Homo sapiens: one gene and its partners. The protein of the gene in region 1 purifies or fractionates together with the protein of each later gene. This does not show direct contact. Each region holds a gene or a part of one and is shown in the gene's direction. Other genes may lie near its edges. The genes, in order: OR1M1, FNDC3A, SNX14, FNDC3B and OSBPL8.

Region 1 (3,907 bases):
CAGCCTCCCAAAGTGCTGGGATTACAGGTGTGAGCCACTGTGCCCTGCCTAAAGCCAACACATTTTCCAAAAATCCCTGGCTGCCTCAACAGTTTTCGGAGTGCTCTTACAATCCTCAGGGGTGCTGTGTGTGGGGTGTGATTCTCTATTAATCCAAGCTCCTCATAATCTGATAAATGCTGCCTGGAGTTCATCTCCCTCACTAAACTGTGAATTCATGAATCCATGCGTGCTTCATGAATTACAGAGATTAAGAGTACATGCTCTAGATTTAGAATGCTTGGGCTAATCCAGCCACCTGCTCTCAGTTAAACCCCATTTGATTGTATTAATCTTCTGTGCTTCCATTTCTTCCTGCATGAAATAGCACTAACATTATTCTGTTGTCGTGAGTAGCAAATTAGCAGAGACCTTCGATCAGTGCCTGGCAATACAGGATAACCATCACTGATTCATGCGTATATGGAACAATTATGTTTATGTCTTCTGTATCCCAGACAAGATGCTGGTCACAAAAATGAACAAAGACAAACAATTCCTGATTTCAAATGTCTTGAGGACAGGGTCTGTGTATTTTCATATATTTGTCCCCACAACTCAGGCCAGATCCTGTCACTATATATTGCAATTACCAATAATTTTTTACAAAATGAATGAACGAATGCGTGAGTGAATAAAAGTGACATCTGCAAGGTGTTCATTAGAAATCACAAAAATAAAAAATAAAAATATAAAAGTAACATGATCAGAACTGTAATGCAGGAAGATTAATTTAGTGACTTCAGGATTGTTTCTTTTTTTTGAGATGGAGTTTCGCTCTTGCTGCCCAGGCAGGAGTGCAGTGGCGCAATCGGGGCTCACTGCAACCTCTGCCTCAGCCTCCTGAGTAGCTGGGTTTACAGGCATGCGCCACCATGCCCGGCTAATTTTGTATTTTTAGTAGAGACGGGTTTTCTCCATGTTGGTCAGGCTAGACTTGAACTCCCGACCTCAGGTGATCCGCCTGCCTCGGCCTCCCAAAGTGCTAGGATGACAGGCATGAGCCACCGCGCCCGGCCGACTTCAGGATTGTTTCAAAGGAAGATAATTGGATGCATGAGGCTAGCTTAAGATTAGTGAACTTGGCAACTCAGAAGTAATAAGAGCCTTTCATTTAGGGTGTCTGGAAAGAGGAGATGACTGGAAATGACTATAAAAATAAAAAGTTCAGGACGGGCGCGGTGGCTCATGCCTGTAATCCCAGCACTTTGAGAGGCCAAGGCGGGCAGATCACGAGGTCAGGAGATCAAGACCATCCTGGCTAACATGGTGAAACCCCGTCTCTACTAAAAAGTACAAAAAATTAGCCAGGCGTGGTGGTGGGCGCCTGTAGTCCCAGCTACTCGGGAGTCTGAGGCAGGAGAATGGCGTGAACCTGGGAGGCGGAGCTTGCAGTGAGCCGAGATCGTGCCACCGCACTCCAGCCCGAGTGACAGAGCGAGACTCTGTCTCAAAAAAAACAAATAGATAAAATAAAAAATGGAAAGTTCAGGCTGGGAGCAATGGTTTACACCCATAATCCCGGCACTTTGGGAGGCCAAGTGTGGGCGGATCACCTGATGTCAGGCGTTCGAGACCAGCCTGGCCAACAAGGTTAAACCCCATTTCTTTTTTTTTTTTTAAATAGTATTTGCACCACAGGTGCTATTGTTTATTTTAATTCCAATTAATCAAGAATTGCCACACATGCTAAGAATAAAGCTGTTGGATGTGAACTAAGGAGCACGTTGCTATTTTATTTTAGTGTCCAGATACTCAGCTGGGTTAAACCCCATTTCTACTAAAAATACAAAAGTGAGCTGGGCATGGTGGCGTGCTCCTGTAATCCCAGCTACTTGGGAGGGTGAGGCAGGAGAATTGCTTGAGCCTGGGAAGCAGAGATTACAGTGAGCCAAGATCGTGCCACTGCACTCCAGCCTAGGCAACAGAGCAAGACCCCGTCTCAAAAGGAAAAAAAAAAACAAAGGAAGGAAGTTCGACTTGTAGAGGATGTAACACTCATTGATGGATTGCCTTTGACGGTGGAGGTAGAAAGGAGGAAGACTGAAAATTTCAAACACAGGTATCTGGAAGGATGGTGATTCCATTCATGGACATAGTGGCTCCGGGAGAAAATAGACTTTATTTTTTTATATGTTGAGTTTGCCATGTCAGGAAGAAAGAAAAGAGGGAAAGAATGCTTTGTATAACCCTATTATTATTGTTGTTGTTATTGAGATGTAGTCTTGCTCTGTCACCAGGCTGGAGTACCGTGGTGTGATCTTGGCTCACTGCAACCTCTGCTCCAAGGGTCAAGCAATCTTCCCACCTCAGCCTCCCGAGTACTTGGAACTATAGGTGTCCACCATCATGCCTGGCTTTTTTTTTTTTTTTTTTTTTTTTTTTGGTAGAGAAGGGGTTTTGCCATGTTGCTCAGGCTGCTCTTGAACACCTGCATTCAAGCTCTCTGCCCACCTCGCCCTCCCAAAGTGCTGTGATTACAGATGGGACCCATCGTGCCTGGCCCTAACATTTTTTAATTAATCAAAAAAGAAGAAGAGTTGCTATAAATACTTCATCCATGGTTTAAAGTGCAACCTATATATAAGCTGTTGTCAGGCCAAGTGCGGTAGCTCACACCTGCAATTGTAGCACTTTGGAAGGCCTAGATGGGAGGATCACTCAAGCTCAGGAATTCAAGACCAGCCTGGACAACATAGCAAGATCCTGTCTCCACCACACACAAGAAAAGATAAATAAGCCAGGCTTACTTATGGTGTGTGCCTGTAGACCCCGCTACTAGAGAGGCTGTGGCAGGAGGCTGGCTTGAGCCCAGGAGTTCAAGGTTGCAATGAACTATGATTGCACCACTGCACTCCCTCCTGGGTGACACAGCAAGACCCTGTCTCTAAAAAATAATATCTTTAGCCTGGCGTGGTGGCTCACGCCTGTAATCCCAGCACTTTGGGAGGCCGAGGTGGGCGGATCACGAGGTCAGGAGTTCGAGACCAGCCTGGCCAATATGGTGAAACCCCATTTCTACTAAAAGTACAAAAAATTAGCCGGACGTGGTGGTGGGCACCTGTAGTCCCAGCTACTCATGAGGCTGAGGCAGGAGAATCACTTGAACCCAGGAGGCAGAGGTTGCAGTGAGCAGAGATTGCACGACTGTACTCCAACCTGGGTGACAAAGCAAGACTCTGTCTCAAAAATATATATATATGTATATATACATAATATGTAATAATATATATAATATTTCTATTTTAGAGACAGGGTCTCTAAAGTTACAACACCGTACATGTGTGGAATATATTTACATATATTCTCTCTCTCTCTCTCTCTATATATATATATATACACACACACATATATATTCTATATATACACACACACACACACACACACACACACACATATATATATATACACATCTGGTCTCATAATTAGCCCAAATGAGAACTGGGATGTGATCGCATCTAACTTTCCAAAACCATCTCCCTGTCATTCCTATAACCTCCCCTTTCCATACTTCCAGAGGAATCACACCCATGGAACCAAGAAACCAAACCAGTGCATCTCAATTCATCCTCCTGGGACTCTCAGAAAAGCCAGAGCAGGAGACGCTTCTCTTTTCCCTGTTCTTCTGCATGTACCTGGTCATGGTCGTGGGGAACCTGCTCATCATCCTGGCCATCAGCATAGACTCCCACCTCCACACCCCCATGTACTTCTTCCTGGCCAACCTGTCCCTGGTTGATTTCTGTCTGGCCACCAACACCATCCCTAAGATGCTGGTGAGCCTTCAAACCGGGAGCAAGGCCATCTCTTATCCCTGCTGCCTGATCCAGATGTACTTCTTCCATTTCTTTGGCATCGTGGACAGCGT
Region 2 (4,353 bases), on another chromosome or scaffold:
GCTTAAAGAAAAAAATCACAAACTCTGGTTGTTTAAACGTTTTGAGTTATTGATATTACATTCATTTGGATTTCAGAAGGAAAGCTTGGTCATCTGTTAAGCAAAACAAATTCTTCATTAATGTGGGTTTTTCAATTAGTTTTACACACACATGTACACATATTTACACACATTTGTATATACATTTATCTTTTAATTTTAGAGGGGTTCTTATTTTAAAGTGACTCTGGCAAGGGCTACACTCTATTTTTAGCTGAAAAGTCTATAAAGTTAATTGCTCTGAAGACTAATCACAGAGACTTCTAGAACCATATCCTAGATCATGTACTTAAACCTATCATTTGTTAAACAGCAGAACTCTTCTTGACTAGTCTTTCTAATAATATTGAGTTTCACTGAGTCATTTTTCTGTTTGCTCATCAAGTTTAGTGTCTCTTAGCTTTAAGAAGAGTGCTGACTATAAGCAGGGCACAGTGGCTCACACCTATAAGCCCAGTGCTTTGGGAGACTGAAGTGGGAGGCTCACTTAAGGCCAGGAGTATTGAGACCAACGTGGGCAACATACTGAGACCTGCCTCTCTACAAAAGAAATTTTGAATCAGCTGGGCATGGCAGCATATGCCTGTGTGTGTAGCTGCACAGGAGGCTGAGGCTGCATTGAGCTATGATCGCACCACTGTTGTCCAGGCTGGGTGACAGAGTGAGATCCCATATCTTAGAATACAAGAGTGCTGATTTTAACCTCTTTGGATGCAAATTTCAAAAATTCACTGATACTTATTTCAAGTTTATAAGTGGATTTTAAATATTTGTTGATTTTTATTAAGACAAGTGTCTGCATGATGTACCAAATTAAAAATCAAGTGGAACAGATATTATTTATATTTGTTTCCTACAGCCCCCAAAATAGAGAAAGTAAATGATCACATTTGTGAAATTACATGGGAGTGTTTACAGCCAATGAAAGGTGATCCAGTTATTTACAGTCTTCAAGTTATGTTGGGAAAAGATTCAGAATTCAAACAGGTATGTACCAAGATATTAATGTGTGGATGCATATTTTTACCCTTTTTTAATTTTTATGTATTTTCAGTGTAAGATTTGGCCATCTTTACCTTTTAATTCATAAATATTTATTCAGTATATATTATGTTCCAGAGATCTCAAGATTCCAAATCTTTTCAGTATGAACTACACTTGAACAGATTATTCATTTATCTGATAAGTATTCATTGAATTCTGTGCCAGGCACTCAGGATATAGCACTGAACAAAAAGTCCCTTGCCTCCATGGAGCTTACTTACATTCTGGTGGAAAAGAAGACACTATAAGCAAGTAAACATGACAATATATTGTCAGATATAAGTGTAATGGAGAAAAAACAAAATTGGATAAAAGAAATAGGGAGTGGAGGGGGAGGGCACTGAGTGTTATTTCATTTGGGGCACTCAGCTGACATTTCAGCATGGCCCAGAGGAGATGACTATGGAGAGAAGAGTGTTCCAAGAAGATACGCTGAGGCAGGAACATGCCTATTAAATCTGATGAACATAAAGGAGCCAATATGACTGGATGGAGAGAGCAAAGGGAAGAGTTGATAAGGTCGGATAGTTAATCCTAAGGGGCCTATAGGTGGTATGGAGTGACGTAAGGCATAATAGGCCATACTGTGGCTTTTACTCCACGTGAAATGAGAAGACAGTGGAGGATTTTGACCAGGGTATTCACGTGATCAGACACAACGTTGTTTTGACTATAGTGTTGAAACTACAGTAGGACAAGGGCAGAACTAGAAAGACTAATAAGGAGGCTTTTACAATAATAGTATTAATAATAGTCATAATGCAGTGCTGTAAATATGACATTAGGCATGAAGTTATAATGGAAACCTAGAGGAATTGTCACCTTCCTAGCCAAGAGGTTTCAAAGATAGCTTTCTGATAAAGCAAGAATAGCAGTGAGATAGAGTGGAGTGTTGCCAATGTTTGTTACAACTTTTAAAAAGAATAAGCTTTTATACCACTCCAAAGACTAATTAAATACCTATACATTTCACCTGATTTTCCCTTTTTCCTGTAACCTTAATTTTGAGGGCTTTTAAGCTGGGTTGTTTTCATTGTGTCTTATATTTTCCTCTTCCACTAAAAAAAAGATCCTTCATTTGTTTTATTCCAGTATTGTGCTATTGTAACCACTCTATGTAATATCTTAACTGAAATTACAAAAGATCCAAAGAGTCAGATTAAATCTGGCATGCAATTGTTTTTCTTTATTAAGCCATCTGCAAATTGACAGGATAATTAGATTTGAAATGTAATTTACAGATAAGTAGGTTTCCTTCTAAGGAGGAAGCAAAATTAATATTAAAGAAAATATAATTGTATTACACGTTTAAAGGAAATAGGGATTCCACATTTGAGTAGTATATGAATAACCTTAAGGCTTGTTTGAATGACTTTTCTTGGGTGTATAAACCTTCTGAAATTAGCTTGAGCAGGTTAATCTGTTTTCTTCAGTCCTGTATTTACAGTTACCTGTGTCTCTTCCTGCTTAGAGGTCTTCCCACATCTGAAATACAAAATTGAAAACTTGATCCCATCATCTTCCCTCCCAGTATCTCCTCTCCAACATCTTTACTTCATCAGTGTCATAGACACCAATATCATCTTGGTCTCCAAGCTTTAAATTCTTAGATGAATTTTTTTTTCCTATCAACTCTTAATCAGAATTTGTTTCTAAATCCATAAAACTACATCAGGGCCTCATCACTTTTTACATGTACATCAAGAGTCCCTGTCCTACTCAGCTCCCTTCAGTCCTTCACACAGCCTCACGATTAGGATTCCATAAACACTGTTTTAATGTCACACACCTACAGTGGTCCCTTTTGAATTAACCTAAATTTCCAACTAGTGTAATTAATGTATTCTTCCTCTTTGTACCAGATCTCTTATCACCCTCATGCCATTTGTTGAGGTTTTTCTTTCTTAACCTAATACTGCCAGGCTCATGGAATGGTATATGAAGACACATGGAAAGTATAAAGACAAAAATCATCTATTATATCCATAAGACAAATACATATTTTTAATTTTTACTCAATTTACTTCAGTGTTATGTATACAATTTTACACTACTTTATCATACAACATTCTGTTTTAAGTGAATCCTTTTACAGGTTGAAGCATCCCAAATAAAGTCCAAAATTCAAAATGTTCCACCCAAAATCTGAAACTTTTTGAGGATCGATATGACACTCAAAGGAAATGCTCATTGGAGCATTTCCAATTTCAGATTTTTGGGTTTGGAATGCTCAACTAGTAAATATGCAACTATTCCAAAATCAAAAAAATTGAAATGCTTCTGGTTCCAAGCATTTCTTATAAGGGATACCCAACCTGTACCATCTCCCAAACATGGATCATTTCTACATTCTATTCCCTGAAACATTATGCATCCTTAGAACTAATGTATAGTCACCATTTTCTTTCAGATTTATCTTAAAGCTTCTTTCAGTAAGTTCCTTTATATATTGTTATCAGCATCCACATTTTTATTTATTGCCAATAATTCACTAATTTAATGTCCTTTTATTAAGTACCTACTATATGCTAGATTCTGGAGACAGAAAAATGAGACAGAGATCTTACTTTACTTTGAGAGCAAAGCAATATGTAAAAATTTAGATTTACATCACAGGTACAATTGAGGCAGCTAAAAGTACTTGAAAGCCCCCATGTGTTGGTTCTTCTGACTTGTAGCCCACCAACTAACTGGAGAAACTCAACTGACAAGTCATTTAACCCTATGAACCTTGGTTTTCTCAATTACAGAATGAGTGGTGGGAGGTTGCTCATTATTGGAAATGATAGCTCCTACAGATTGAGCAGTGACTGCATGCTGAGCACTGCGCTAAGTGCTTTAACAAGCATTAGTTCATTTCATCCTCATAATTATCATACATGTTAACTACTAGTATGTCTGTTATACTAAGGTAGTTGGTCTAAAATCACATCTGGAGTGTGAAGTGGTAGAGCAGACCTTGGATGCCAGGGGTGAACAGTTCTAGTATATAGCTTCTTATTTATGCCTAGTGTTCCATTATTGGAACACTAAGCTTGTGGTAGTTATTTATATCTCACTGATCAAGGTTATTGCCAAGGTCTGATTTTTCACAAAAAAAAAATTTGCAACCTCTGGCATAAATGGGTTAATTACTAGCACATTCCTCTGAAAATCCGTGGAATTTCATTCTTTTTATTTCCCTTGTGAGGCATGGCAGAGGAGGTCCTATTTTCTGATTCTAAGTGATCTCCCCTCTCTGGTTTATACAGTGATTTGCCATAGGCACCT
Region 3 (4,353 bases), on another chromosome or scaffold:
TAGTTTATAATAGTAAATATGATTATAAGGTAATTACATTAAACATTAATTTAAATATATAATAAACATTTAAGTATTCTTAGATAGAAAGTATTTTCTTTCTTTCTTTTTTTTTTTTAATTATTTTTGAGACAGAGTCTTGCTCTGTTGCCCAGGCTAGAGTTCAGTGGTGTGATCTCGGCTCACTGCAACCTCTGCCTGCCGGATTCAAGCGATTCTCCTGCATCAGCCTCCCTATTAGCTGGGATTACAGGCATGCACCATCATGCCCAGCTAATTTTTGTATTTTTAGTAGAGACGGGGTTTCATCATGTTGGCCAGGCTGGTCTTGAACTCCTGACCTTGTGATCCCCCTGCCTCGGCCACCCAAAGTTCTGAGATTACAGGCGTGAGCCACCCCACCCGGCCGATAGAGAGTTTTTCCTAATGTCCCCCAAGTTCCTCCTGTTAAGGGAATACTTTTTCTTCTCTTAAGTAATATTCTATTTTAGCCAAGTAAGAACTCTAACTCTTTGCTATTCAACGTGTGTTCTGCAAACCAGTAGCATGAACATTGGTTGAGAGTTTGTTAGAAATGCAGACTTTTAGGGCCTAACCAAGACCTACTGAATTATAGTCTCCATTTTAACAAGATCCTTACGTAATTCACATGCACTTGAAAGTTAAGAACTAATATAAATCACTAAATATAAACAATTATTATTATTTCTTTTTCCAGATCTCTGACCTTACTTATAAGAGAGATTCTGTCTGGCTCTGTGTTCCTTCCTTCTTTGGATTTCCTAGCTGATCCAGTAAGACTTAAGATTTTTTTTTAAATTGTTACAAATTACACTTAATATAACATTTAGTATCTTAAACATTTTTATGTATATAGTCAGTGATACTGAAAACATTCATATTGTTGTGCAACCATCCCCATTCCCCATCTCCAGAACTCTTCATCTTATGAAATTGAAACTCTGCATCTGTTAACAATAACTCCTCATTCCTTCCTCCCTCCAGCCCCCCCTGGCAACCACCATTCTGCTTTCTGTCTCCATGAATTTGACTACTCTGGGTACCACATATAAGTGGAATCATAAGTATTAGTCTTTTTGTGACTGGCTTATTTCACTTAGCATAGTGTCTTCAAGGTTCATCCATGTTGTAGCATGTGTCAGAATTTCCTTCCTTTTCAAGGCTGAGTAATATTTCATTGTATGTGTATAACATGTTTTGCTTATCTGTTCATCCATTGATGGACACTTTGGATGCTTCTACCTTTGATCCAGTGAGATTTTGAAGAAACAAGAATGATTTAGAAATATTTTAAATGCCAAAATCAGAATAGCTTTTATTTGCCCATTTTCACAAAGGTTAAGAACCTGTTTTGTAGATGTAAAAAAACTCCTGCTGTAATACATATGTGCAGATTTTTTGCTACTGCTCCATTTATTTTTTCATTTTTCTAGAAACTTACATAATATGATACAAGTTATGAGAATTCTGGGGAGAATACAGTAGTGGAATTATTTTGACTTATGTTTATTATTTTCCACTAGGATACTGTGAATCATTTGCTTATCATCTTCATAGATGACAGTCCAGTGAGTATTGAATATATTAGAAAACACTTCAGATTGCATTGAATTTTGATTTTGTATGTCAAATCAAGTGGGAATTTTACTGAGTTAATAATTCTCTTTCTTTCAAAGCCTGAAAAAGCAACTGAACCGGCTTCTCCTTTGGTTCCATTCTTGCAGAAATTTGCAGAACCTAGAAATAAAAAGCCATCTGTAAGAATTTTCAGCAATAACACCTTTTTGATATAAACAATTTTAGAACTCATTTATATAGCTTAAACTTAATCTTTCTCTTATATCAAGGTGCTGAAGTTAGAATTGAAGCAAATCAGAGAGCAACAAGATCTTTTATTTCGTTTTATGAACTTTCTGAAACAAGAAGGCGCAGTGCACGTGTTGCAGTTTTGTTTGACTGTGGGTGAGGCTTACCTGTGTATTTTACGAAAGTAATTTTTAAACCTTTTAATGTATTTGAATATTTTAAATCAGATCTGATGTTGTGGTACCCATCTATCATTGTACTAAATTTCATATACTCGATTTCCTTTTTTTTTTTTTTTTTTTGTTTGAGGCGGAATTTCACTCTCGTTGCCCAGGCTGGAGTGCAATGGTGTGATCTTGGCTCACTGCAACCTCCGCCTCCTGGGTTCAAGCGATTCTCCTGCCTCAGTCTCCCAAGTAGCTGGGATTACAGGCATGTGCCAGCACCCCAGCTAATTTTGTATTTTTAGTAGAGATGGGGTTTCTCCATGTTGGTCAGGCTGGTCTTGAATTCCCGACCTCAGGTGATCCACCCACCTCGGCCTCCCAAAGTGCTGGGGTTACAGGCGTGAGCCACCGCGCCCGGCCATATACTTGATTTTCTAAGAGCATATGTGGGTTTCTCTCAAGTGCCCACTTCTTTCCAGATTGGGAAATAATCTGTCACTAACTTCATTCAAATCCTAGTAGCAGAAAAAAAAAATACTAAAAGTACAGTATAATGAAAATATATTAAAAACCCAAACTGTAGCCCATGTCAATATCACTTTTTCACAGTTTTTGTAAAGGATTGTTTTGACTAAATTATCAAATATAAGAATACCTCATTTTAATTATAAGCTCTGTAGCATTATAGATTATTGGATTTATAAGAAACTTTATAGACTGAAAATATTGTTTTTAATGCATTTAATTTCTTTTTAAAATATAACTTTAAAAATGAGGTATAATTTATATAGTGAAACACATGGAATTTAAATGTATAGTTTGATCAGTTTTGCATGTGTGTACATCCACGTAACCTGCATCTTTATCAAGATCTAGAACATTTATTTCCATCAGCCCAGAAAATTCCCTTAGGATCCTTCCCAAGAGATCCACTCTTTCCCCTACTCCTGCCAAAGCAATCACTGGTCTCATTTCTCTCAGCACAGATTAGTTTTGCCTGTATAATTTTTTTTATATAAATTGAATCACATAATATGTACTCCTTTGTGCCTAGCTTCCTTCACTCAGGATAATGCTTTTTAAAGTTCATGTATGTTTTTGTCTAAATAAGTAGTTTGGGCAAGGCGCAGTGGCTCATGCTTACAATCCCAGCACTTCGGGAGGCCGAGGCAGGTGGATCACTTGAAGTCAGGAGTTCGAGACCAACCTGGGCAACATAGTGAAACCCTGTCTCGACAAAAATACAAAAATTAGCTGGGCGTGTTGGCTCATGCCTGTAATCGCAGCTACTCAGGAGGCTGAGGCAGGAGAATTGTTTGAACTTGAGAGGTGGAGGTTGCAGTGAGCCGAGATCATGCCACTGCACTCCAGCCTGGGTGACAGAGTGAGACTCTGTCTCAAAAATAAATAAATAAATATGTAGTTTGTTCTTTGCTGAGTGGTATTCCATTGTATGAATGCATATATCTTTTAAACTTCATTATTAGGTGCAGACACATTTAAGATTGTTATATCTTCTTAATGAATTTATTCTTTTATCATTATAAAATGCTCCTCTTTTATCTTTGGTAATTTTTAGTCTTGAAGTCTGCTTTGTCTGATGTTAATATAGCCACATCATCTTTCTTTATATTTGAGTGTTCATTTGTATATCTTTTTCTATCTGATTGAAATGTTTAATGTATTTCTAGTAAGCAGCACATAGTTTCTCTCACTTTAAAAAAACCTAATTTAGTAATCTTTGCTTTTTAATTGGTATCTGTAGTACATTTACACGTGATATATTTATTATGTGTTTATTGTTAGGCCTTACATCTTGGTGTTTGTTTTATATTTGTCCTGTATATTCTTTGCCTTTCTTTTTCTCCTTTGCTGCCTTTCTTGAGGTTATTTTTTAGTATTTTATCTTTCCTATTTTTTTGAGTGTGTTCTGTTACTTTTTTGATTGATCAGAGATTTTCTTTTTCATTTATCATAGTCCTAATTTAAAAACATTTTACTGCTTCAGGAGCAGTGTAAGAACCTCAGTGTACCTCAGAGCATCCTCTCCTGCCTATTGTGCTCCTGTTGTCATGTATTTTAATTCTGCATAGGCTATAAAACCACAGTACATTATTTCTTCACTAGTCATCAGGCTTCTACACATGTGTGGAATGCACACACACATTCATTTTTAAAGGTTCTTACAATTATTGGCATATTTACTGTCCCGGTGCTCTTCATTTCTTTCTGCAGAACCAGGTTTCTAATATTGTTTCTTTCTGCTGAAAGAAATCATTTTCACAGTTCTTAAAATACAAATATGCTGGAGATAAATTTTCTTAGCTTTTGTGTGTCTGAAAAGATGGCATGATCATGG
Region 4 (4,353 bases), on another chromosome or scaffold:
TGTAGTCAAAACTGAGAGGAAATGGTTTCTCATGCCTTTCTTTTTGTAAAAAATTTTATTTTATTTTACTTATTTTATTTTTTTGTGTGACAGAGTTTCAATCTTGTCACCCAGGCTGGAGGGCAGTGGCACAATCTCGGCTCACTGCAACCTCTGCCTCCCTGGTTCAAGTGATTCTCCTGCCTCAGCCTCCTGAGTAGCTGGGATTACAGGTGCCCACCACCATGCCTGGCTAGTTTTTGTACTTTTAGTAGAGATAGGGTTTCACTGTGTTGGCCAGGCTGGTCTCGAACTCCTTATCTTAGGCAATCCACCCACCTCAGCCTCCCAAAGTGCTGGGATTACAGGCATGAGCCGCCGCACCTGGCCCTATTTTATTTTTAAATTTCTAAATCTCAAAAAAAATTTTGTGGGTACATAGTAGGTATATATATTTGTGATCGTGCCTTTCTTTTATATGTATTTGAAATATTCTGGGGCATGTTGCTCTCTTTCCCATTTTAGTTAATTGAATACAAGCACAGTAGGATTCTCTTCTCAGTGGCATTATTAACTACTTCCATTTCTGCCTTTCCAGAGTCCTGATAGTTCTGGTGCTGACATCTCAGAGTACAGGTTGGAATGGGGAGAAGATGAAGAATCCTTAGAACTCATTTATCATGGGACAGACACCCGTTTTGAAATAAGAGACCTGTTGCCTGCTGCACAGTATTGCTGTAGACTACAGGTAGGTTGACATTATTCAGATGTTACTCACAAGGACTGCTGTCCCATGAAAGGCACTTTGGGAAACCCACTCAAAGGCTTGTGGTGGAGGCTGTCAGGAGGGATGATATGGAAAAAAAGAGTCCATTTAAATAAAAATATATTTGGTTGTTTTGGTGTTTTGCAGTTAATTTCCACTTCTCTAGGAAATTCTGAAACTTAAGAACAAAATAAGATTCTTCTCCATTCTGCTTCTCACCACCCTTGTATCTTGTCTGTTCATCAGTTTGCTGAATAAATGACCCAAGTCCAAGGGAAAGATGACACAGCTCCTTAGGGAAGGAGCCTTCTGTCTCATTCCCCTGAGATGTACATTTCAGTGGGAAAGACTCTTAGAACTGGTAAAAGACAGAAAATTATTTTACGAGCTGTTAAATGGAGCCAAAAATAATCTGGACTAGTCTGCATTAGATTACAGGACCCCACCTCCCACCTCCCAGTGACGGTTATCAAGGCTGGTTATCTATAAGCTTCCACTTGGGAGTCCAGATAGAATAACATCAAGAAAAATTGGTTCATAGCCTAACCCCTCAGAGTGACAATAACCATGGGTTTACTTTTATTTTACTCTCTTGGCTATATTATTATTTTTTCTGTGTAAAGCCTTAGTCTCTTGAGAAAATAGAGTTCTTTGTCCTCCTCTTTCCATTTGTTCAGTAACATTTCTTGAGCATTATAGTACTTTGTACCAGGATCAAAGGAAGATCAGGAAGAGAGATACAAAGATTAATCAGATGTGGTTGTTGACCTTGAAGAGCTCTGTCTTCATACACATTTAGATTTGAATAGATAAAGAAGCAAAGATGCCAAAGTCAAGTTCCCACCTGATTTAAGTCATGGATCAAATTCGTTATTATAAGTACACCCAATGTCTCTGGTCTCTTTGGAGAAAATATTCGCTTCATAACTTAATTTTTCAGATCAACTGAAGCATTTCTGTTAAATTCAGAAGTCTGCTGTATTTGAAACATTTCTGATTAAACTCTTTTGTTATACACCTTTCTTGCTTCTCGAATGAAGCACCTGGGACATAATTAACCTTTTGACAATGAGTCAGTGTCACAGCAAATTGTCTGATATTTATAATAGTGATGCTGAGTCACTGGGGAAAGGTTAAATTATGTGCCACACTCTTGTTTTTCTACCAAGGCAGGATATAAATAAAGAGCTGTCTGCCACCCCAGTAAAGAGCTTCACTCCATTATGGTTTTTGAGTTTTGGTGTTTCTTTAAAATGTTATTATATCTCCTTCTCTTTCAGAGTCTATGTTGTCTTAGCATTGACTTCCCAAAGCTGCATTATAAAAGATACATTAATAAGAATAGTACCTGCATAATCTTGCCTCGTTGTATTAACAGGAGTAGAAATATATTTTCAAAGGTCTGTGCTTATTTATAATAAAATGAGTCAGATCTTATGAAGGGAGTACTACTTTTAAGATTACCATTGCCACACTAAAGGACTATTGCCAGGAAGGGGGTCTGTTCAAACTATACCAATTTATTGTTATTTGTGGACCAAATATGAATTATTTTCATTCAACATGATTACAAAGTCAAGTTAAACCCCAATATTTTTTGAATATATGGCACTTAAGAATTTAAATATTGGCCGGGCATGGGGGCTCACACTTGTAATCCCAGCACTGTAGGAGGCTGAGGCCGGCTGATCTCTTGAGCCAGGAGATAGAGACTAGCCTGGACAACATAACAAAACCCCTCCTCTACAAAAAAAAAAAATACAAAAATTAGCCAGGCATCTGTAGTCCCAGCTGCTCAGGAGCCTGAGGCAGGAGGATCACTTGAGCCAGGTCAAGGCTGTAGTGACCTGTGACTGCACCACTGTAGGCCAGCGTGGGCGACAGAGTGAGAGCCTGTCTCAAAAAAATAAAAATTTATTATAATACCTGTACTGTGTTTTATAGAAATGTGGTGGAACATTTCTTGTTTTGCTCAGGAATTTTTGAATTTTTGTATTTTCAGGACTGTTTTAATTAAGTACCAACGTAATTCCATTCATAGGGCATGTTGTATATTATAGGCATACTATTATTTACAAAAAGTTGATTTTGAATTAAATTTCATTTGAAAACTGTTAATAAAAAGTGGTGTAAATCAAGAAATGTTTTCCATAGAGCCAAGCTAGTTAAAAAGAAAGTAGGATCCTGCAGTAGAAAAAGAACATTGGAAGAATTGGTAAGATTCTGATTAGGTCTGTATGTTAATAGTATAGTATCAGTGATAATGTTTTTCTTTTCTTTTTTTTCTTTTTTTTGAGATGGAGTCACGCTCTGTCACCCAGGCTGGAGTGCAGTGGCGCGATCTTGGCTCACTGCAACCTCCGCTTCACAGGTTCAAGCGATTCTCCTGTCTCAGCCTCCCGAGTAGCCGGGATTACAGGCGCCTGCCACCACGCCTGACTAATTTTTGTATTTTTAGTAGAGATGGGGTTTCACCAGGTTGGCCAGGCTGGTCTCGAACTCCCGACCTCAGATGATCCACCCGCCTCAGCCTCGCAAAGTGCTGGGATTCCAGGTGTGAGCCACCGTGCCCGGCCACCAGTGATAATTTCCTGGTTTTGATCATTATTCTATAGTTCTGTAACATGTTTCTCTTCGGAAAAGCAGAGTAGGAGATAGACAGAAATTTCTCTGTACTATTTTTGCAACTTTTCTGTAAGTATAAAAGTAGTACACAATAAAAAGGTGTTTGAAAAAATAGAGAAAATACTATTTTGTTCATAATTTTCCCAGTGGGAAGGAAGAAAGTGTAGCTCCTACTGTTGGCCTGATACTCTGCCAGCATTTTACATATTAACCGATTTAATCTTTACTGTAATTCTATGAATTAGGCATTACTGTCCCCATTTTACAGCTGAGGAAACAAGCTCAGAGAAATTAACTAACCTAAGATCACACAGTTGTTAAATGATGGAATCAAGGTTTGAACTAAGCTTCAACTCTTAAAAGCCATGTTCTTGTCCTTCTGTGATATGGTGATACAAAGCCCTAGTTGATAGAAACATTGGGCTCCATGATATCCTATTTTTCTGCCCCTGTGATACATTTATATCAGTACCAAAATCTCGAAATACATACTTATAAAATAATTTGTCATGTTAAAATTTTTCCAGAAAGAGAGTTGAGGTATTGAGGTATTGTAATGAAACAGAAGTGGGTATGACAAAATGTTGCAGTAGAGTTTCAACTGTGATTTAATAGCAAATAAATGCTTTAAGCCTGCTTCTTTGAAATTAACAAAGGAGTTATAAGTTTTGTTTTAGACCTTGATTTAAGAGCTCAAACTTAGCTGGGTGTGGTGGTATGTGCCTGTGGTTCCAGCTACTCAGGAGGCTAAGGTGGGAGGATCACTTGAGCCTGGCAAGCAGAGGTTGTTGCAGTGAGCTGAGATTGCGCCACTGCACTCCAGACAGAGACAGACCCTGTCTCAAAAACAAAAAACAAAACAAAACTCAAACTCCTTTAGTTTTGTAATTCAACCTCATAAGCTGTCCAATAAGCTAAATGAAAACTAAGTTTTAGAGTACATTCACTTTTGTAAGAAAGCTGCCAAATGTTTTTCTCTTTGT
Region 5 (4,353 bases), on another chromosome or scaffold:
GGTAGAATTTCTCCTTTAGGGAAAACCAACTAATTGAGATTACGGTTAACTAAAAGTAGCTTAATCCTTTTTTCTTGGGCGGGGAGGGTATTGCTTAATAACGTAATACACATACACCTAGGAAAAGACTTGGACTTTTTAATCGTTATTTCAGTAGTCGGGAGTCACAGCGAGAATACATTTGGGATCACCGAGTTAGTTCCATTCTGAGGTTAGGTGCTTCCTGCAGGGGAAAGAATTTAACCCCCCGAACCTCTGACATTTATATATTAAGCGATTCTCAAGTGGAGAAAACGACTTTCAAAACCTTTTTAAACAACAAAAAATATATATATAAACATACATATAAATACCATATATATACATATACAAAAATACTATATATACACACATATATGTATATATATATATAGTATTCTACTACTCTTAGGAATTGCAAGCATTAAAATAAATTTTTAAGCCATTAATGATTTTAATGTCAAATTTATAATATTTAATTCTTAATATTGGAAGAAGAGAGAAATCTGTATAATTATATAAATACTTCCCACAAGCAAAACCTACTTAGGATATTGTTTAAATATTTTAGAAGCCAGTGTTTGTGATTAAGAAATAGTAACAGCTATGAGTTCTTTGTGTCAGGTACTTGAATATTTTACATGAAATCATTTATTTAATTCTCATACCTATAAGGAGGATACAGTTTCTTCCCATTGTACACATAAAGAGATTGAACCCTGTTTTTCTAGCATGGAGCCATGATTGAAACCCAGGCAGTCTGATTCCATGTCCCACTATATACTGGTTTTAGGAACTGGCCCATAAATTGTAAAGCTATTTGAAAATGCAGATTATTACGGTATTTGTTAAAGTCATATTAAATTTTTTTTCTGTTTTCGTTTTGAATCTACATCTTTACTTTCTAATGTTATGCTTTTTGGAAATTTATTTCATTTTTTGACCTAATAACTTTAAAGAACCCTTTGAAAACAACTTAAAAATTATGCTTTTGTATCAAAATTATACTTTAAATTCAGTACTTAGTTTTCTTTCCAGATTCGTGTCTACCTAAGTTTAGCATTGGTGATACTAATTAGTGTTGGTATTGTATACTTCTAAAACAAACAACCCTAGCCAACAACAACGACAGAATTTCTTTTTCTTTCATGTTTCTGGAAAAATAAAATCAGCTTATATAGTTGGTGTTTAAAAACAGGTGTATGTCATTGGTTATAAAGTGGAGATTTATTTTTCCCTAGACCCAGTTAAAGTTCATTTCTCTTTTTTTAAATTATAATTCTATTTCCACATGCTTTCTTTAGCCTTCTAGAAATTTAGTATTTCTTATCTCATTAGTTGTATCCATGGGATGGACATTGTTAAAATTTGGTTTAATATGGTAAACTTTAGGTTCTCTTTAGTATGTAAGCAGTATGTAGAGATAATATTTAAGTGATAATTCATTTGTTCAGTTTTCTGCTAAGGAGATATATTTGTTAGAAAATTTTTCTTAATACTTAACATTTGCATTCTCAAGAATGATGAAATTAAAGCTCATTTGCCTTTAGATTATAATCCATACCTGATTTAGATTATTACAGATAATATTGGATAGTGTAAAGATGAGATCTCATAATAATTACTCTATACCATTTATTTTGTTTATTTTGTTATTAAGGGTCCAAAAGGTGAAGCGGTTGGATCCATTACTCAACCCTTACCTAGCAGTTATTTGATCATCCGAGCTACTTCAGAGTCAGATGGTAAGTATAGTTTTTGATGGATTGGATTTTGGTCTTCATTTTTAAGAGTTTTTTTAATGCCACTTTGTATTATTCTGGGGAAATATATTTTTAGTATGGCATTTGCAGCAGAAGCATGGTAATCATAAATTGTTTTGAATGCTAAATATATGAGTAACTTAATAGACAAAAATCTGATAGAAAGGAAGCATTGTGTGATTTACTGAAGAGTTAGCAGTTCAGAGTTTTCTTCTTCATCCTCCATGGACATATTAACACCTTTTTATTTGTTAGTGGTCTTTATGGTACTCTTAAAGATATATTTAATACTTTTTATATTTTACTACTAAATGTTACCATTTATGAGACATATACATTGTTTTGGTTTTGTTTTTTTTTATGTAAGAGATTCGAGTACAACCTTTTTTATTCCTCCTTTAACACTTAATTCATGAAGCAAATATGGAGAGAGAAAAACTTAAATGATATCAAGGTAACTTTAAAATCTTAATAATTAATAATGGATTTTGTCCTCACTTTCATGCTTTCATGTTTCATAGTTTAGACAAGGTTGGTATAGGGAATCTTCTAACCTTCCAAAGTTTACTTTTATCTGATTTTTTTTGTTTTGTTTTGTTTTTGTTTTTGAGATGGAGTCTCGCTCTGTTGCCAGCCTGGAGTGCAGTGGCACGATCTCGGCTCACTGCAACCTCTGACTCCCTGGTATAAGTGATTCTCCTGCCTCAGCCTCCCGGGTAGCTGGGATTACAGGCACATGCCACCACGCCCAGCTAATTTTTGTATTTTTAGTAGAGACGGTTTCACCATGTTGGCCAGGATGGTCTCACACTCTTGCCCTCATGATTCGCTTGCCTCGGCCTCCCAAAGTGCTGGGGTTACAGGCGTGAGCCATCGCACCTGGCCTCAGATTTTTTTTTTTTTTTTTTTTTTTTTTGAAACGGAGTCTCACTCTGTCGCCCAGGCTGGAGTGCAGTGATGCGATCTCGGCTCACTGCAAGCTCCGTCTCCCGGGTTCACGCCATTCTCCTGCCTCAGTCTCCCGAGTGGCTGGGACTACAGGCGCCTGCCACCACACCCGGCTAATTTTTGTGTATTTTCAGTAGAGACAGGGTTTCACTGTGTTAGCCAGGATGGTCTCGATCTCCTGACCTCGTGATCCGCCTGCCTCGGCCTCCCAAAGTGCTGGGATTACGGGCGTGAGCCACCGCGCCTGGCCGATGATTTTTTTAAATTAAAATATAGGTATGAGCTTTCAATATGAAGATGCTTTACTTGGCTGATATTCCCAGCAAATCTTGAAGTGATATATATGAAAATTAAGAGCCCTAAACAAATATAAATGAAAAGTTTTCTGCTAATTCACTTTTAAATTTTTACTTAAAAAATAAAACTATTAATGTTTCTCTTAACTAATATGGCAGTTAATGGTAGCATTATGCAGGCATTTTCCTGACTTAAAAAGTTTCATACATACAAGTAGAATGGTTGTTAATCTTGAGGATAGACCTCCTATTAACAAAAACAGTTACTTCAGATAGTTTGTTTGTAGTAGAATCATAAATCCTCAAGTGTATTTTATGTACCTTGCTTGATACCTTCAAATTATACTGCATGTTAATGTTCTAAGATTTGAAAAATAAAGTATGTTTATTTTAGATTGGGTATAGTTTCTAATGCATGCTGTATACTATTCATTTATCAGTGGTGTGCTTAGTATGTGAAAAGCATTTGAAAAACGGAAAGATTTCATTAAATTCTAGCAAGATGTTATGTTCAGATTAACTTTTCCAGTGCATGTTTCTCAAAGAAATAGTGGTAACAGGGTAAGTTAAGATGCATGCTAGTTTCATAGTTTTAAAAATTATAGTGCTTATGAATCTGTGTTCTTTTAGGAAGGTGCTGGATGGATGCTTTGGAGTTGGCTTTGAAATGTTCTAGTCTTCTTAAACGTACAATGATCAGAGAAGGAAAGGAACATGACCTGAGCGTTTCATCAGATAGCACACATGTGACTTTCTATGGCTTACTACGTGCTAACAATCTCCACAGTGGTGATAACTTCCAGTAAGTAGATACTGCCGCTGAGTTGGTAATGTTTCAGAGACCATACTGTTCACAAAATTAGTTGGCAGGCCTAGAATTTTAGTAGTGTATCTAGGACTGAAATTTGCATATCTTCCCATTATATGGCCTAGGAACCGGCTTAAAATTTGTTTAGCTGCTATAATCAGGTGTAGAAATGTATTTCCTTGATTCCAGCCAACGTGATTTACTTTATCTTTCCCAAATATAGCCATGCTAATTATTCACCTTGTCTGTGCATGATGTCCCTTCTATTAAGAATGATTTCTGCCTACTCCTCCTTACGCTTTTCTCCTGTCTATATATTCTTCAAGATCAGTCTCAAATATTACATCATGTGTGAAACCTTATAACTATGAGACATAATCTGTCTTTCTATAGAGTAACATGTTTTTAGTAATGGCACTGGACTTAACTCTACCTGGTATTTGTGAAATTCATTTATATTTCTGTTTGGAATGGAACTGTATCCTATTTGTGGTTTTATTCCCTGAAGCATTTATTGTAG

What was found.
Region 2: the proteins of OR1M1 (region 1) and FNDC3A purify together in Homo sapiens (affinity purification with mass spectrometry; one large-scale study listed by BioGRID and IntAct). This does not show direct contact.
Region 3: the proteins of OR1M1 (region 1) and SNX14 purify together in Homo sapiens (affinity purification with mass spectrometry; one large-scale study listed by BioGRID and IntAct). This does not show direct contact.
Region 4: the proteins of OR1M1 (region 1) and FNDC3B purify together in Homo sapiens (affinity purification with mass spectrometry; one large-scale study listed by BioGRID and IntAct). This does not show direct contact.
Region 5: the proteins of OR1M1 (region 1) and OSBPL8 purify together in Homo sapiens (affinity purification with mass spectrometry; one large-scale study listed by BioGRID and IntAct). This does not show direct contact.

What each region holds. Positions count from the first base shown.
Region 1 is NC_000019.10:9,089,676-9,093,582, forward strand, and holds part of OR1M1 (olfactory receptor 1M1), read left to right. Parts: intron 1-3,556; 5' UTR 3,557-3,569; coding exon 3,570-3,907. UniProt on the Homo sapiens protein: Odorant receptor.
Region 2 is NC_000013.11:49,202,259-49,206,611, forward strand, and holds part of FNDC3A (fibronectin type-III domain-containing protein 3A), read left to right. Parts: intron 1-898; coding exon 899-1,026; intron 1,027-4,353. UniProt on the Homo sapiens protein: Mediates spermatid-Sertoli adhesion during spermatogenesis.
Region 3 is NC_000006.12:85,544,742-85,549,094, reverse strand, and holds part of SNX14 (sorting nexin-14), read left to right. Parts: intron 1-718; coding exon 719-794; intron 795-1,544; coding exon 1,545-1,589; intron 1,590-1,697; coding exon 1,698-1,778; intron 1,779-1,868; coding exon 1,869-1,983; exon of another isoform or gene 1,984-2,011; intron 2,012-4,353. UniProt on the Homo sapiens protein: Plays a role in maintaining normal neuronal excitability and synaptic transmission. May be involved in several stages of intracellular trafficking. Required for autophagosome clearance, possibly by mediating the fusion of lysosomes with autophagosomes.
Region 4 is NC_000003.12:172,346,635-172,350,987, forward strand, and holds part of FNDC3B (fibronectin type III domain-containing protein 3B), read left to right. Parts: intron 1-577; coding exon 578-727; intron 728-4,353. UniProt on the Homo sapiens protein: May be a positive regulator of adipogenesis.
Region 5 is NC_000012.12:76,392,055-76,396,407, reverse strand, and holds part of OSBPL8 (oxysterol-binding protein-related protein 8), read left to right. Parts: intron 1-1,678; coding exon 1,679-1,763; intron 1,764-3,655; coding exon 3,656-3,827; intron 3,828-4,353. UniProt on the Homo sapiens protein: Lipid transporter involved in lipid countertransport between the endoplasmic reticulum and the plasma membrane: specifically exchanges phosphatidylserine with phosphatidylinositol 4-phosphate (PI4P), delivering phosphatidylserine to the plasma membrane in exchange for PI4P, which is degraded by the SAC1/SACM1L phosphatase in the endoplasmic reticulum.